Linked DNA regions of Homo sapiens: regions 1, 2 and 3 are each linked to region 4. The links come from fine-mapping of genetic effects on gene expression. A gene starts in region 4. Each other region holds a variant in brackets. All regions are shown on one strand. Distances are from middle to middle. Region 1 overlaps MGAM (maltase-glucoamylase). Region 2 overlaps SSBP1 (single stranded DNA binding protein 1). Region 3 has its middle 24 kb from the start of PRSS37. Region 4 holds the start of CLEC5A (C-type lectin domain containing 5A).

What was found. PIP is the estimated chance that this variant, and not a neighbour inherited with it, causes the effect.
Region 1: its variant is fine-mapped to the expression of CLEC5A in whole blood (INTERVAL, PIP 0.96).
Region 2: its variant is fine-mapped to the expression of CLEC5A in whole blood (TOPMed, PIP above 0.99).
Region 3: its variant is fine-mapped to the expression of CLEC5A in whole blood (TOPMed, PIP above 0.99).

What each region holds. Positions count from the first base shown.
Region 1 is chr7:142,063,682-142,067,681 of GRCh38, reverse strand. MGAM (maltase-glucoamylase) reads right to left here. Exons shown (of 71, transcript NM_001365693.1): 37 at 3,160-3,298; 38 at 2,214-2,347; 39 at 2,060-2,094; 40 at 1,851-1,967; 41 at 961-1,109; 42 at 257-341. Among named protein-coding and RNA genes, the nearest start is that of MGAM2, 46 kb to the left of the region's middle. The variant A/G (reference allele first, on the strand shown) is at 2,072.
Region 2 is chr7:141,749,426-141,754,052 of GRCh38, reverse strand. SSBP1 (single stranded DNA binding protein 1) reads right to left here. Exons shown (of 7, transcript NM_003143.3): 7 at 3,565-3,742. The coding sequence ends at 3,699. Among named protein-coding and RNA genes, the nearest start is that of TAS2R3, 12 kb to the left of the region's middle. The variant G/C (reference allele first, on the strand shown) is at 2,050.
Region 3 is chr7:141,814,733-141,819,359 of GRCh38, reverse strand. No RefSeq gene overlaps it. Among named protein-coding and RNA genes, the nearest start is that of PRSS37, 24 kb to the left of the region's middle. The variant G/C (reference allele first, on the strand shown) is at 2,742.
Region 4 is chr7:141,944,572-141,949,198 of GRCh38, reverse strand. CLEC5A (C-type lectin domain containing 5A) reads left to right here and starts at 2,225. Exons shown (of 7, transcript NM_013252.3): 1 at 2,225-2,392; 2 at 2,887-2,985; 3 at 3,799-3,858. The coding sequence starts at 2,907. RefSeq lists an enhancer at 2,544-3,743.

The DNA.
Region 1 (4,000 bases), 120 kb before region 4:
GTCATTGACTATTCCATGAGGTGTTTTCTTCTTGATCATCCTACGAACCAGAATTGTTAGGCTCATTTTAAAGATGAAGGAGCTGAGTGCCAAGAACACCTAAGTGATGGACTTCAGCTCAGAAAGAGAGGAAGAGACACAGGTAGAATAAGAAACCATGTCTCAGGACCCCCACCAGCTCAGGCCTCTTCTCCTCGTCCTTTTCCCCAAGCCTCACAGCTGGGATCCTCCCCTCATCGGAGGCCTCCATACTCACGCGCTCCAGGACAGGGCTGACCAGGAAGGCTGGGCCCAGCAGGAACTGACTGTCTATGTCCCATGTCACCTGGTCTGACACAAACCTGGAAAGGGAAATGAAGGTGCCCAACAGAGCCCAACAGAGCCCCAGCCCGACACTCTGAAGAAGCTCCTCAAGTTCAGATCCAAGTCGGAAATACAGCTGCCCCTGAGCCATCCTTGCTTTGTTCCTAGGCCTAGCTTCATCAGGAGCACCCAGCCTCTGCTTTCCCCATGGGATGTGCCTCAAACTTCAGAAATGCTGGGATGTAGATGTGTTCTCTCCTGTAAAATATTACCTCATTTCTTAACCATGGCACATTTTAAATGTGAGGATGGCCCTCGTCCCTCAATTCTCTTGCTGAAATCCTTCTTTTGTGACCTGGGTCCATATAACAAAACTGCTACATAAGATAGGCCTTTGCACAACCAAATTAGAATGAAACTATTCTATGCTGTACTGCATCATTTCAATTTTCGTCATTCAATAAATACCCTTTTTTTATGACCTACGGTATGTATAACACTGTGCTAAAGACAGTAATCAGGTATACTTTGTGTCTGAAGAGCTCATGTCAAAAGGCCATCATGTCTTTAATTTGGAAGCGTTGTGTATATCAACTGCTACCACATAGAATGCAATAAGTCATCCATTAGTCATCGGGATCCCTGCTGGACACTCACTCATGGAGCAGAGGCCGCACAACAGTGACGCCCTCCGTGTGGGCCTTTTGCATCAAGGTATACAGATATGGCAACAGGGTGTATCTGGTCTGCAGGACATTTCTGGAAATATTCACAAAAGCAGCATCCCAGGACACAGGGTCTTGTCTCTAAAGGAGAAAGAGAACAGTGTTGGGAGCTCGCCCTGGAATTTCTAGGGGATTTAAGAAGGTCACTAAAAGCATACTCCAATTGAAGATCACTCACAGCTAAACAAAAGAAAACTATACATGAGGCCCAGAGAATATTCTTAATAGACCGGAAAGAGTCACCAAAGCTCTCCTAAGACAGCTGATAAAATTTCACTGTAAGACATTCTTTTTGGAACATTTGGTAAAATTCTGCCTGAAATACAGGAAAAAAATAATAATCTAAAGCACAATGAGGAATATGGTTCATTGAGACACCAGGTCTTCACAATTTTTAAGGGTGCAGTGGCTCACGCCTGTAATCCCAGCACTTTTGGAGGCTGTCGAGTGGATCGCTTGAGCCCAGGAGTTCGAGACCATCCTGTGAAATATGGCAAGATCCCATTTCTACAAAAAATCAAAAATTAGGTAGCCACGCTGGGATGTGCCTTTATCCCAGCTATTCAGAAGGCTGACGTGGGACAATCGCTTTAGCCCCAGAGGTGGAGGCTGCAGTCAGCCATGATTGGGACACTGCACGATTCAGCCTGGCCAACAGAGTAAATCCCTGTTTCAAAAAAAAAAACAAAACAAAACAAAACAAAAAAAAACACCTTTTTTTAAAGATATCCCAGGAAATAGAGACTGCATTACTTTTAGCACAGAAATGGAGACTGTCTTTCAAGTGACATAAAACAGTGGAGGTAGAAGCCACTGTCCTACCCTGGTCCCAATGGTATTGTGGTTTCTTGAGAAGGGGTAAAAGGCCCCCAGCTGCATCCAGCGAACACACATCTCGTACTCAGCGTCTTGAAAGAACCCACAGATATCTGCTCCCGTCTGAAACAAGAGGAAATAAAAGGAGCCTGCTGATGATTTCTGAAAGATGTCCCCACCTTCTTGGTGCTTAGGAGGATCCCAAGGACACTCACATAGGATATGCC[A/G]AAGAGGCTGAACTCCATCATGCCTGCAACGAGAAGCACAGCTGTGTCACACCAGGCTCTCATGATCTGCCTCCTCACCTCTTCCCTAAGGATCCCAACTCCCTGCCCTGTCGGCAAAGGCCCTGGGGAAGGACCCACGCACCAATGATAGACTTCTTCAGCTGATCCCATGCGGCCGTGTTGTCTCCCAGCCAATGTCCTGCCCAGCGGCCAGAAGAGGGAAATGTGGAGCGGGTGATGACGACCCCTCGCTGTCCCGTCACCTCCTGCACGGCTCTGCTTGGAAGGGAACAGGAGGTGAACTGAGGCAACAGCCAGGGAGTAAAGGCCATAGAGCTTCTGCTCCCAGAGCCCTTGAGCCTAGTCAATGTTTGCTGCGTGACTGGAGGGAACATGGGACTCTGAGCTGTAATAGGAGTTCCACTGATCCCAGATGATGGAGATAATGAGTCACGTGTTCTCACAGTGCTTTACAAAGAACTTCACTGTAGCAGCCTCACTGGAGTACTCCCAAAATACTAAGGAATTACTATGTCTTGCTAATGGTTTCCTCAATACTTAGTTTTCTATATTTGAGAAGGAACACAGTGAAGGTTATAAGATCCTCTTAGAAGAATTCATACTATTCATTGAGCTTGCAAAGCAGGACTGTGCTAATTCAGTACAATACCAGTTACCCTCCACCAAGAATGGCCAAAAATACAAACATCTCCAAAGATGATTCACTTTGAAATGAACGGGAGAGATGCCCAGTCCTCTGTGTTCCCTTCACCTCCTGTAACTAAAGCTATTGTTCCACTGGCTGCCCTGTGTGACCATTATGGTGTCTCCATGTGAGTCTTTCCCACTAGGATCATTAAGTTTTTCACTGGTGGGACCATGCCTTATTTAAATCTGTCCTCCTACTTTTAATCACAGGGCCTGGCTCCATGTCAATGAGCATTTGTTTAATAAATAAGAATCATTACAGAGTTATGAGAATCTTCTTAATCCTTAGAAATGGAATGAAAGGAAAACTAGGGTAGCTATGTCAGTCACTGGCAATCGCTATAGGTTGTGACAGCTGGAGAAGGGAGACGGAGACTCACTCGTATGTGGGTCTGGTCTGGGACCACCCATACAGGTTGTGCACGTTGTAGTGCTGCACCAGGGAGCCGTCTGGGAGGATCTGCTGACTCTCCATACAAAGGGTCTTGCTGCTCAGGCCCCTGTCCCTGGACTCCAAATCTGAGGAGGAAGAACTGGCGAGGTGAAACCCAGCCCTGATTCTGTTTCTCCCTGACTTCTCTTCAAGGGACTGGGCCCTGGATCTTAAGACTAACTTCAGTCCTGCCTGTGTCGCTCTCCATCTCCCCAGAGACATGAGCACAGCGCCCCCAGCTCTGAGCTGCATTGGCGCCTGCTGTGTTTCCAACATCAAGTTCACTGAAGGAAGCAGAGGTGTCAGGAAGAACGTACAGCTGTCAAACACTACATGACGGGCTCTGATTTAGGCTTTTGACTTCCAATTATTTCCATAATTCTATGAAGAAGATCTCATTATCCGTCTTTTACAATTTAGCAAACTGAGATTTGGAAATATCACATAATCTGTGAAAAGTCACAAAACTCCTAGAGAGAACAATTTCTGGAGCCAAGATATGAACCCAAGTGTAACTCCAAAGTCCATCAGCTCCATGATAAGGGGAAGCCAGTAATTTCCACTCACTGATGACACAAGAAATTCCTGTGATGGAATTCACACAAGCCTAAAAACTAAGAAACTCAGCTGTGAGAACCCTTTGTGCCATGAGCTCTGCTAAGTGCTTTCTGGACAAATTTCAAGAAATTTGCTCAATGAGTCTAGTCACTTGCCCATGCCCGGCTGGGTAAAGCACGTGCAGAGCTTTTGTCTCTGGTCCCCAGTAAACCACAGCAGCCATGAGGATG
Region 2 (4,627 bases), 200 kb after region 4:
TGGGAAATGAGAAGAGGGGCCCGCCTCAGGCCCCACAAAAAACTGGGGCATTCCCAATTCAGCCCTTTGCTCCTCAGGGATTTCAGGGACAACAACCCCCACTGTCCCAAGTGCCTCAGGGAATGAGCCAGTTACCACAATACAACAATTGTCCCCCACCACAAGTGGCAGTGCAGCAGTAGATTTATGTACTATACAAGCAGTCTCTCTGCTTCCAGGGGAACCCCCACAAAAAAACCCCACAGGGATATATGGCCCACTGCCTGAAGGGACTGTAGGACTAATCTTAGGAAGCTCAAGTCTAAATCTAAAGGGAGTTCAAATTCATAGTGGTATGGTTGATTCAGACTATAAAGGCGAAATTCAATTGGTTATTAGCTCTTCAATTCCTTGGAGTGCCAGTCCAGGAGACAGGATTGCTCAATTATTACTCCTGCCTTATATTATGGTTGGAAACAGATAAAAACAGGAGGGTTTGGAAGCACTGATCCGACAGGAAAGGCCGCATATTGGGCAAGTCAGGTCTCAGACAGCAGACCTGTGTGTAAGGCCATTATTCAAGGAAAACAGTTTGAAGGGTTAGTAGACACTAGAGCAGATGTCTCTATCATTGCTTTAAATCAGTGGCCAAAAAATTGGCCTAAACAAAAGGCTGTTACAGGACTTCTCGGCATAGGAACAGCCTCAGAAGTGCATCAAAGTACTATGATTTTACACTGTTTAGGGCCAGATAATCAAGAAAGTACTGTTCAGCCAATGATTACTTCAATTCCTGTTAATATGCGGGGTCGAGATTTATTACAACAATGGGGTGCGGAAATCACTATGCCCGCTCCATTATACAGCCCCACGAGTCAAAAAATCATGACTAAGATGGGATATATACCAGGAAAAGGACTAGGAAAAAATGAAAATGGCATTAAAGTCCCAATTGAGACTGAAAGAAATCAAGAAAGAAAAGGAATAGGGTATCCTTTTTAGGGGTGGCCACTGCAGAGCCTCCTAAACTTACCATTCCATTAAGTTGGAAAACAGAAAAACCCGTATTGGTAAATCAGTGGCCGCTACCAAAATAAAAACTGGAGGCTTTACATTTATTAGCAAATGAACAATTAGAAAAGGGACATATTGAGCCTTCATTCTCGCCTTGGAATTCTCCTGTGTTTGTAATTCAGAAAAGATCCAGCAGATGGCGTATGTTAACGGACTTAAGGGCCATAAATGCCGTAATTCAACCCATGCGACCTATCCAAACCGGGTTGCCCTCTCCGGCCATGATCCCAAACGCCGGGCCTTTAATTATAATTGATCTGAAGGACTACGTTTTTACCATTCCTCTGGCGGAGCAGGATTGTGAAAAATTTGCCTTTACTATACCAGCCATAAATAATAACCAGCCACCAGGTTTCAGTGGAAAGTGTTACCTCAGGGAATGCTTAATAGTCCAACTATTTGTCAGACTTTCATAGGTCGAGCTCTTCAACCAGTTAGAGACAAGTTTTCAGACTGTTATATCATTCATTATGCTGATGATATTTTATGTGCTACAGAAACAAGACAAATTAATTGACTTACACATTTCTGTAAGCAGAGGTTGCCAACGCAGGACTGGCAATAGTATCTGATAAGATTCAAACCTCTACTCCTTTTCATTATGTAGGGATGCAGATAGAAAATAGAAAAATTAAGCCACAAAAAATAGAAATAAAAAAAGACATTAAAAACATTAAATGATTTTCAAAAATTGCTAGGCGATATTAATTGGATTCGGCCAACTTTAGGCATTCCTACTTATGCCATGTCAAATTTGCTCTCTATCTTAAGAGGAGAACCAGACTTAAAAGAATATTAACCCCAGAGGCAACAAAAGAAATTAAATTAGTGGAAGAAAAAATTCAGTCAGCGCAAATAAATAGAATAGATCCCTTAGCCCCAGGTTGGGCGCCAGATGAAGGGGTGGCCTGCCCCTCCACACCTGTGGCTGTTTCTCGTCAGGTGGAACGAGAGACTTGAGAAAACAAAGAGACACAGAGACAAAGTACAGAGAAA[G/C]AAAAGTGGGCCCAGGGGACCAGCGCTCAGCATACGGAGGACCCGTGCCAGCACTGGTCTCCGAGTTCCCTCAGTATTTATTGATCATTACCTCTACCATCTCGGAGAGGGGGATGTGGCAGGACAACAGGGTAATAGTGGAGAGAGGGTCAGCAGCAAAACATGTGAACAAATGTCTCTGCATCATAAACAAGGTAAAGAAAAAGGTGCTGTGCTTTTGATGTGCACATATGTAAACACCTCAATGCCTTAAAGAGCAGTATTGCCGCCAGCATGTCTCACCTCCAGCCCTAAGGCGGTTTTCTCCTATCTCAGTAGATGGAATATACAATCAGGTTTTACACTGAGACATTCCATTGCCCAGGGACGAGCAGGAGACAGATGCCTTCCTCTTATCTCAACTGCAAAGAGGCCTTCTTCTTTTACTAATCCTCCTCAGCACAGACCCTTTACAGGTGGCGGGCTGGGGGATGGTCAGGTCTTTCCCTTCCCACGAGGCCATATTTCAGACTATCACATGGGGAGAAACCTTGGACAATACCTGGCTTTCCTAGGGAGAGGTCCCTGCGGCCTTCTGCAGTGTTTTGTGTCTCTTGGTACTTGAGATTAAGGAGTGGTGATGACTTTTAACAAGCATTCTGCCTTCAAGCATTTGTTTAACAAAGCACATCCTACATAGCCCTAAATCCATTAAACCTTGAGTCGACACAGCACACAGCACTTGTTTCTACGAGCACAGGGTTGGGGGTAGGGTTACAGATTAACAGCATCTCAAGGCAAAAGAATTTTTCTTAGTACAGAACAAAATGGAGTCTCTCATGTCTACTTCTTTCTACATAGACACTGTAACAGTCTGATCTCTCTTTCTTTTCCCCACAGATAACAGGGGCAGAGAAAGAACAGAACTACAGCTCCTGTGGCATCACCTGGAGATGAACGATTTCATCTCTAATTATTCAGGTCCTTATTGCTGGTAAACTATGTTTCATCAATGCTACTAATGAAACTGTCCAAAAACAAAAGATATGAAGAAGGTAGGTTAGTCTTAAAGATGTTTAGGTTAGACACTAACCACTGCTCAGCAACTCCCTTCAATTTGAGCTGAAGCTTAGAATCCCATTGGGATGATTCATCTATCAATGCTTACTGAGTGGCTATTCTATGTAAAGCATGGTTTAAAGTGCAGGCAAACAGAAGATTCAGTCCTTGCCTTCATGTCTACAGAGCAAAACGTTAAGAAAATCAATATTTACAAATATGGGATAAATGTCTCACATACAGTGATGCTCAGTAAATTCACTGATTGGACAAATCAATATTGTAATAAAAGTGTATACAAAAACCAGGAGACCTTCCCAAAGCATATTTATCCCTTTGCCATAACACAAATGAGCCTGAAAGTTTACTATTTTGTATACCTGTACATAGAAACCACCCTTAGAAGAATAAACAACTAGTAAATGCCATAACAGATAGTAGCTACCAAGATTATACCACAAAAAGGAGAGCGAGAACGACAGTCAGAAAAAAGATTATTACTCATTTTACGTAAAAGAGTATTTTAATTCTTGTCCTTGGAAGCCATAAAGATTATACATGACTTGGAAATGAGACTGTACCAAATGATGGCCAAAGAAGAATCATCCTTTCTACTCCTTCTCTTTCGTCTGGTCACTCAGAAATATAATATTATCTGTAAAAAAGCCAAAATGTAAATATTAATTTCAGAACTCTTTCTCCATCTCATTCAATAATTCTCCTCTAATACATATAACTTTAGTGCTGTTCATTAAAAGGATTTTAGCCATCTTTTCAAAATATTAAATCACTTGCTATGCTCACGAGAGGTATATATACAGTTGGCATAAGTGGAGCTACAAGTTAGGCACTGGCTGCTTTTCGAACAATTCAGATCTTGTTAGAAGAGGTGGGATATTTCTTGTCTTCCAGTCTTCTCAGAAACAATTTCCTGCAAAAGAACTGGTCACAAAATTGGATGCTTGCAATGGTCAGGCAGATTCCACGACACTAGGCAGCACATCCTCAGAGAAAAGGACAAAAGTGTATCACATTCTACACTCTGGGGGTCTAGAGGAAAGAGTAAGAGTCCATATGTGGCCCTGTTAGCAATGACAGGATTTACTTACGTTTTTAACTTTAAAAATTCAAATAGAAGAAATTTTATTTTTAAATTACAATACAGAATAACTTTTTGTTTTTCCTTTGGAGATGGAGTCTCTGTCACCCAGGCTGGAGTGAAGTGGTGCAATCTCAGCTTACTGCAACCTCTGCCTCCTGGGTTCAAGCGATTCTCCTGCCTCAGCCTCTCCAGTAGCTGGGATTATAGGTGTGCACCACCATGCCTGGCTAACTTTTGTATTTTTAATAGAGACAGGGTTTCACCATGTTGGCCAGGCTGGTCTTGAACTCCTGACCTCAAGTGATCTGCCCGCCTTGGCCTCCCAAAGTGCTGGGATTACAGGCATGAGCACCGCACCTGGCCCAGAATAATTTTAATATACCAATTCTTGGGAACATTTTATGAATCAACATCACAGAGTTAGCATTTTTATCCAAA
Region 3 (4,627 bases), 130 kb after region 4:
GAGCTATAGTAACCAAAACAGCATGGTACTGGCATCAAAACAGATACATAGACCAATGGAACTGAATATAGAACCCAGAAACAAATGCACACACCTACAGTGAACTCATTTGCAACACAGGTGTCAAGAATATACACTGGAGAAAAGACAGTCTCTTCAAAATATGGTGCAAGAAAACTGGATATCTATATGCAGAAAAATAAAACTAGACCCCTATTTCTCACCATATACAAAAATCAAATAAAAATGGAATAAACACTTAAATCTAAGACCTCAAATTATGAAACTACTACAAGAAAACATTGGGTAAACTCTCCAGAATATTGGCCTGGGCAAAAATTTCTTGAGTAATACCCCATAAGCACAGGCAACAAAAGCAAAAATAGACAAATGGGATCACATCAAGTCAAAAAGCTTCTGCACAGAAAAAAAAAATTAACAAAGTGAAGAGACAACACACAGAATGGGAGAAAATATTTGCAAATTATCCATCTGACAAGGAATTAATAACCAGAACATATAAGGAGCTTGAACAAATCTAGAGAAAAAAAAATCTCATCATCCCATTAAGAAATGGGCAAAAAATTTGAATAGACATTTCTCAAAAGAAGATACAAATGCAAATGCATATGAAAAGGTGCTCAACATCACTGGTCATCAGAGAAATGCAAATCAAAACTACAATGAGATATTATCTCGTTTCAGTTAAAATGGCTGATACCCAAAAGACAGGCAATAGCAAATGCTGGCAAGAATATGGAGAAAAGAGAACCCTCATAGACTGTTGGTGGGCATGTAAATTAGTGCAACCACTATGGAGAACAGTCTGAAGCTTCCTCCGAAAACTACCAATAGAGCCACCATTCCTAGGTATATACTCAAAAGAAAGGAAATCTGTATATTAAAGAGATGCCTGCACTCCAGTGTTGGTTGCAGCACTATTCACAATACCCAAGATTTGGAAGCAATCTGAGAGCCCATCAATAGATGAATAGATTTAAAAAATGTGAGGCAGAGGTTGCAGTGACCCGAGATCACACCACTGCACTCCAGCCTGGGTGACAGAGTGAGACTCCGTCTCAAAAAATAAAAAATTAAAAAATAACTAAAAGAGTATAATTGTATTGTGTGAAACACAAAGGACAAATACTTGAGGTGATGAATATCCTCTTTATCCTGATGTGGTTATTACACATTTCATGCCTGTATTAAAATATTTCATGTAACCTATAAATATATACGCCTACTATCTACCCACAAAAATTAAAAAAACATGGCGTGAACCCGGGAGGCAGAGCTTGCAGTGAGCCCAGATGGTGCCACTGCACACCGTCTCAAAAAAAAAAAAATATAAAAAACAAAATAATATAAAAAATAAAAAACAAAATTGTATGTCTATTAGTAATCTACTACTATGCAACAAGTTACCCCAAAACTCAGAGGCTTAAAGCAACAAACACTTATCATCTCACAGTTTCTGTTGGTCAGAAATCCAGGCATGGCTTATTCGGTCTTTTGGCGATTGATTCCCTCAAACAGCTGCAGTCAAGGTGTTGACCAGTGCCTTAAGGTTTTACTAGTGTGTATCTATTTCCAAGCCCCTTCACATGGTTGCTGGCATGATTCAGTTTCTCCTGTACTGTTGAACAGAGGGCCTCAGTTCCTCACTGGCTGTTGACTGGAGGTCACTCTCAGTTCCTTGCCATGTGGGCCTCCACAAAGGGCAGCTCACAACATGGCAGTTTGCTTTATCAAAACAAGCAAGAGAGAAGGCAAGAGAAAAGGTGCAAGTTACGGTCTTTTGTAACTTAACTCAGAGTAGCAGCCCATCACTTTTGCTATAGTCAATCCAATAGAAACAAGTCACTAGGTCTAGCCAATACTAAAGGGGAAAAGATTCCACAATAGATGTGACTATGACTACCAGATATAGTAGATTATTGGGATCCATATTTGAAGCTGTTAACCACAATCTTAGAGATATACTGAAAAAGTAGTAAGATTTTGAACATCCAATGGTTGGCATTTGTCAAGCTAGTATGCAGAAATCTCTGAAAGAAATGTGATTGGTGTGCTTAATGGATTCTCTAGCAAAGGATAAATATATATCTATTTCAATCTTGGGTCTACAGTTCTCCATAGGACATCGGTTTCCTTTTATCCTACTTAATCCTCCCTGTCTTCCTACCACTCTTTTAGCCCTCCCAATCTGCTTCTTGACTTCCTTTTCCTCAGAGAACCCCTCAGGAGGAGATTAATAAGCACGAAAATTGCCGTGTGCAAGTAGAATTTAAACTTAGTGCATTCAGAATTCTATTAGACATGTACTAACTGATACTTTTCAATTGATTCATCTTAATAAGCCAATCCATTGTCTTTTAAAATGGATAAATAGTGCAGGCTGGCTAGAAGCTGAAGGCAATCTAAAAAAACCCTAGTTCTCAATAACAGGAAAGGGCTGAATATAGCAAAGCAAGTTAGTAAATAACTTTTAAAGACTAAAACTTACCCCGTGCCAAAGATTGAACAAAAATTCCGTCCTATAAACAAGAAAAATAAGGAGTCTATTGATGACTACAGAAATCGACTTATACAGGTCTTCCAACACTATTCTGGAGTTAATGTAAAAAATGAGATCAAGGGAACTTTGTCCTGTCTTCATCAATGGACTAAAATCTGATATAGTAGATCTAATAGAAAAAGTAAATTAGAACAAAAGACTTCGGCATAAAAGAACCATG[G/C]AGTATTGCTGAATACTTTAAATGAGACCTAGAAAACAGACCAAAAAAAGAGGATTTACTAACATCATTTGAAATTACCAATCAATCTGCATCTTCCAGGCATACGGAATGAAAGATCATGATACCTGCAGATATTGCCAAGAAAAGGTCCATAGCAAAAGCCAGTGATCCACCTTATTCAAAAATAAAAAGAAAGTTTTCTTTAAAGATGACCAAATATGGTGCCCAAGGGAACTATTGGTATCACAGAGTTTCTTGTCTTCCATAATCCTCTCAAGGACTATTCAGCCTAATTGTTAAAGGAAAATCATGGAATTCCTTACAGACTCTGATGTAACTATATCTACTGTATAAATAAACAAAGAACACCCAAATGAGAAAAAAATATAGTCAATTTACTCAGAGCTTGCTGCAGCAAGGCAATCAGCCACCATCACTAGCATTCGGCAGAGATTCAAAGGCAGGCAGGAAAGGGTAAAGCTTTGCAATAAAAAACAGGAAAGGCTTCAAGTATGCTCTGATTAGAGGTTGTTGGCATGGAGAAGCTGGGCCAGCTAGAAACGAGGCATCTTATGTGTTTGGTTTGGGAAGTATATCTGGATTTCTCTGGGTGATCCCAAATTGGAAACAGGGACAAAAAATAGGGAAGCTGGCAGTTATTGACCATATTCCAACCATTCTAAAATGTTTTCAGCGTTTTAGAATGGTTTGGCTTCCCAGGCAGGTCGCTGCAGAGATTGTGTTTAGAAAAGTAATTGTTCTTGCAATACAAAGAGATTTTAGATTTTGTGTTTCCTACATGGGTATTCACAGTAATCTGTCTAGTGACAGGGAAACACATTTAATGGGAACTGCCCCCCAAGAATTTTGTAAGTTCTTGGCACTTACAAAAAAAAAAAAACTTCCTTGCCCTTATTACACTCAATATTCTAGGAAAGTAGAAAGGATAAAAGGATGACAAAATTGAAATTAGCCAAACTACTCATAAGAGACTAAATTGGTATATTTAGTCATATCACCAACAGGTTCAAGCTATTTTTCCACAACATAACTTTTCTCATCCATTGCTGAGATACTAAAGATTTCAAAGAAAGACTGTTTTTGAAGCTCATTGGAAAGAACATTACTGAATACCACTGAAAGCACACATTGGTCAAACTTCAAGTAACAACTTGGTCTTGTTTCAGAATTTCAAATATCCTGTTCTACTTGGAAATCTGAACATTTGGGTGATCTCAAGCTAAGCATATCCAGGCATCTTCCAGAAGTACATGACATCTTTCACAGATCTTCAGACAAACAGATGACTTCTTGCTCTAGACAGGTTCTTCCTAAGCCTCACAGAACAAGGTCCAGATGACTGAAACCATAAATAAACTCACATCCCATGTCCCATTTTTTAACCTGCACGCTCCTGTTTTTATTTTCCTAGCTATTTTCTTTATTTTCTCCCAGTTCAAGCTTCTAAATTGCTAACACACATTTGTTACTTTTAATTGATAACATTCCTTAATACTACTCTGTGCATCCCTAATCACTTCTTGGAATGAATCAACATCTAGCTACAATTCACTCATGATATGGCTAAATCACACAAACTAATTGTGTTTATAAACACTTTCCTTTGAGTAACACTTAGTGACTATTACTATCAGTCTCTGCTAATAAATAGTTGGTTTCCTCAAAATATAAATCAACTACTACCCAAATTTTTAGATGGCAAACACCATAACAGGTCAGACAACCAAAACTCAAAAACTCATTATCAGATCACACTTAGGATGAAAACCAGAACACCTTGCACAGGAGGTAGCCTTCACAAACTTTTCCAATATTAGAGTTTAGAAAAAGACAAAGAAATAAATAGTCCACAAGTAGAAGCTGAC
Region 4 (4,627 bases):
TTTCAGTTTTACTCTTCAATAAAACTTTTTTCTTTATTTTTAGGACTCAGCCTAGTGAAAAAAATCTAATTTGACTCACTAAGCAGAGAATTTGTTATCCCAGTCTGCAATAACTGATTAAAAATTAGTGATCTCATGGTTTTTTCCCCAAAAAACAATGTGTGGGTATTTCCTTACAATTGTGTGACTAGAAGCCCCTTTCTTATTATTTTCCCAAAGCAATGGGCATGGGCCCCCAATGCTATTGACTTCATCTCTAGTAACCCCTCAGTTGCATTTGCCATTGCAGATATTGGCTTTTTTTTAGCAAGGTTTCTGATAATGTCGAGTTTAAGAGAAGCATTGCAGTGCGAAGCCTTGAACAAGAATTTAGATTTTTCTTTAGATTTTCTAGCAGAGCAGAGGTGTCCCACAATGCATCAGTCAGAGTACTACCCCCAAAACTTCTGTGGACATCCTTTTATACTATGACATTTTCTTCTCTTTTGATGATATTTGAAAGATCTCTTATACCTCTTTGTTATAAAAGATTCACTTGCTATCCAAGTGTATAGATTTTATTAAGTTATTCAGAAAGTCTCTGTTAAAAACTTTCTAAATAATAATAACCAAGTCTCCTGATTCCCATACTTCCTAACATAGCTGGCATAATTGGCCATATTTATTGTCCAATAAATATATGGATCCTTCTGGACAGCAATCTAGGGTCTAGAAGTAATTACCTTGTGACCAGATAAATCAGGTTCAATGAGATTTTTCAAAAACACAGAGGACTATCCAAGTAGAACAAAACACAACTTTAATGTTCCAAAGCCCTCCAAATGTACATGTCTTTTGATCCAGCATTTATATTTCTGATAACTTAGCCCAAGAAAGTTATTAAGGACATGTAAAAGGATGCATGCACTTAGCTGTTCACTGTGCATTGGGAAGATAGTTAGAAGAGTTTTAGAAAATAGTTAGAATACTAAGGATTTATGTTTAAGATGCTGAGTATCACGCTATTGAAATTACAAGCATTATCTTGCTCATTTCTCGGAACAATCCTATGTGGTATTTACTATAATTACTCCTATTTATAGATAAAGAAATGGAAGGTAAAGAGACTCAGTAACTTAATCAAGGATGTTCAGCTAGTGAAGGTCAGCTCCAGGAATCAAAAGCAGGACTGATTTTTAAAACTTTGTTCTTGTCCACCACACTTTACTAGAAGATTTGTGGTTATGCAATTGTTAAAGAAATAATATACTTTTACACCTGAATAAATAAATCATATAGTTTTACACCTGAATGCTATGCACATATTAAATAATACATTATCAAAATCTATATTTTGACATGAAAAGATATATATAACATAGTGTTAGCTTAATCTTGAGCAGATAGATTGCAAAACAATATGTACAATATGTTCCCATTGTTCTTTGTGAACCAGTGTTTTTCTGTCTATCTATCTATCTATCCATCTATCTTTCTATCTACCTACTCATCTCGAAAGGATACACCCTGAGGTGCTAGCAATGACTATAACTAAATGTACAAGGTTATAAATGGTTTTGTTTTCTCAATTTTCCTTGTTAATATTTTCCAGCCATTTTTTTGTCATGAGCACAGTAGTTTTCATAGTAGGGAAAATAAAAGCAAATTTTCAAATTTAACACGAAATTAAAAACTCCTTGACAATAGGACTTGAGTATTGTTCACCCCAGCCCACTGCTGTATCCAGCAGAGTGCCATGTTCAAGAAACACTGAAGAGCCACCATGAGGTCTGGAAGGTGAGCAGGTGGTGCCAGAGAGGAGTCCATGATAAAGGGGAATGAGCAGAGCTCCAGCAAATGGAGCAAATGGAACAGCAAGAACCTGCTCATTCATATTAGTGTCTTCAACTGGATTTCTTAACATTTTTAACTTGACATAATTTCAGACTTGCAGAAATGTTGTAAGGAAAGTACAAATAACTTCCAGCTACCTTTTATCCAGATTCAATGTTTGTTAAAATTTTACTACATTTCTCTTCCCACTGTATTTCAAGGAGATTTAGACACAGAGGAAGGGTGAATCTGTGTTGAGGTATTTTGTTTTCCAAATTGTCCTTAAAATGTTCCTCTGCATTAGAACTCTCCTGGCAGGAAGTCTGCTCTTGCCACCACTAGGGCTAGAGAGTCTCTTCCCTTCTTTGCCCCGCCTGCTCCCTTTGCCAAGAACCCCACTGAACAGGAAGAGGTATTTCTTGGGGATGCTACCAAGGCAGAGACTGTGAAGAAGGAAGAACGTTGCTTGGGCAAAAGGAGCATATTCTCAGGAGACGGGGCCCCTGCCTGCCACACCAAGCATTAGGCCACCAGGAAGACCCCCATCTGCAAGCAAGCCTAGCCTTCCAGGGAGAAAGAGGTGAGTCTGTCTGTCTGTCTTGGCTGCATGGACTGTTGACCAATGCCAAGACCTTCAGGGATGCCTGTCCTGTCTGTCACCTACCCCTGGTATTTGGAAGACTGAGGCTTCTGACAACTTAAGTCAGTATGGTGAAGGCTACAGACTAAGGTCCTTGGGAACAAGGGTCATTTCAAGGATAAGGGTTCTCAAAATACAGGAGAGGGTTTAATTATTAGACAGAATTTAGGAGGCCACAAATAGGGCAAGGCTGAGGCCTGGAGTAGGGAATGAGTGAAGGAGAGGCAGTATGCCAAGTTCCAAGGCTCCAATCAATACATGATTCTTTCTGTGTTCGCGGCCCACGCTGGGTCACCTCCTGGTACCTGTCAATGTCATGCCTGTCTTCCAAGCCTGCCTTGCTTTGGGTACTCTGAGCGAGAGGCTGGGATATGTCCTAGTGAAAAGCAGCCTTGTACCCGAATTCTGATGCTGCTGTGCTCTAATCTTCACAGGCCCCTGCAGCTCCTTCATCATGAACTGGCACATGATCATCTCTGGGCTTATTGTGGTAGTGCTTAAAGTTGTTGGAATGACCTTATTTCTACTTTATTGTGAGTATTTGAGCAACCTCTTGCCCCAGACTTCATGTTGTCTTGCTCATTGACTCTTCTCTCAGAATGCATGGTTGTGTGTAAAGGTTACATATCCAAGTCTTTCCACCTGAGACTAACTGACCCAACCTGAGGTCAATTGGCAATGCCTTTCTCACTCCCCAGCACACACAGTGGCCCAGGCTCCTTGGTCTACCTTGGAGATATAGAACTTACCAGTTTCTGATGGTTAGAACGCCACGCAAAGCTTTTGCTAGTAGAGTATTATTTGGGTGATCTCAGCTGAAGTACTTGGCAGCGCTTGTTATTGTTGGCAAAATCTAAAATACAGCTCCAGTTCAACCCAATGACAAGGCCATGGTAAGAGCTGAAGTATAATGTAACAGGATTTAACTGAGAAAGAAATTTCTCTTTGTATACATATAAATTAATTCATCCAAATGCCTAGTTAAAGAAGCCTCCTATGAAAGGATTTTACTGCAATCAGAAACTAGAATCTTCTCTAGCCCCAGAAGCCAGTAGGGAAAATAAATGAGGAAGGAAACGTGAGTGGGAGGCAGTAGTTAGCTAAGAGGTGTCTTCCTCATGATGCAATCTGAAGGTGCAATTCCTATCATGTCAGACAGCAGGACAGAAATATGAATAAGGGAACGTATTCACAAAACCACATTTATGCATCTTCACTGAGTCAGAGAGTTCAGTATTTCCCACTAATAGTCACAGTACCCTAGCAGCCCCTGTGCTGATACTTGTTTGTCATATTCATCATGCAGTCACATTTGGGGCTGAGCCAACAGCTGATTTTCTTTTCAGTCCCACAGATTTTTAACAAAAGTAACGATGGTTTCACCACCACCAGGAGCTATGGAACAGGTAATCTGCATGGTGGTAAATCTTCTCCCCATCCTCCTGCTACTTCTATGCTGAATTCCTAGAGACCTTCCACACAGCCTCCTTTCCCAAGAAATTCTTTTGTACAAAGGGTCCATAAAGATCTTCTAATTAATTCCCTTTCTTTTACATATGAGAAAACCAAGAGCAGACTGAGGGAAATTTCTGATCCTTAGTTTTTCTCCTGGATATGGGGATGATTTATATCTAATCATTGTAATAGAATGTGAAAGTGCTTAATAGCCAGTAGCTATGGGAGATAGAGAGATGAGTGGGGCATGGTTCTCCTCTCCCGATTAAACCAGCTTCCTTCTGAAGCCTTTCCCAACAACATCCTCTCACTTCCTCTTAAGACACCTATTACTACTGACATCGTTAGGAGAAAGACCGTTTCTCATTTATCTTAGTATCAACAGAGGCAACCCAATACAGTGAGCTGTATGGAGAAAATACTCATAAAATATGTATTGAGTCCTTAAGTTATAATCTCAAAGTAGTTTCTGATGAAAACCAGGCTATTACATCTTAGAGTCTATAAACGGGGTACTGAAATAAAAAGTGAATGCCAATTTGTTTCATTAAGATAAATGTAAGTAACTAATTTGATGTCAGAGTAAAGTGGTCTTCAACCACAATGGACAAATAACTGGCAGCCCAATTAGATGTTTGACCAGCCTCTGAAGCCACTGCGGCTGCCTGCTCAGACAGCCAGTGTTCCCAGGGAAATGAGGCCCCTATATGGATTTCTAGA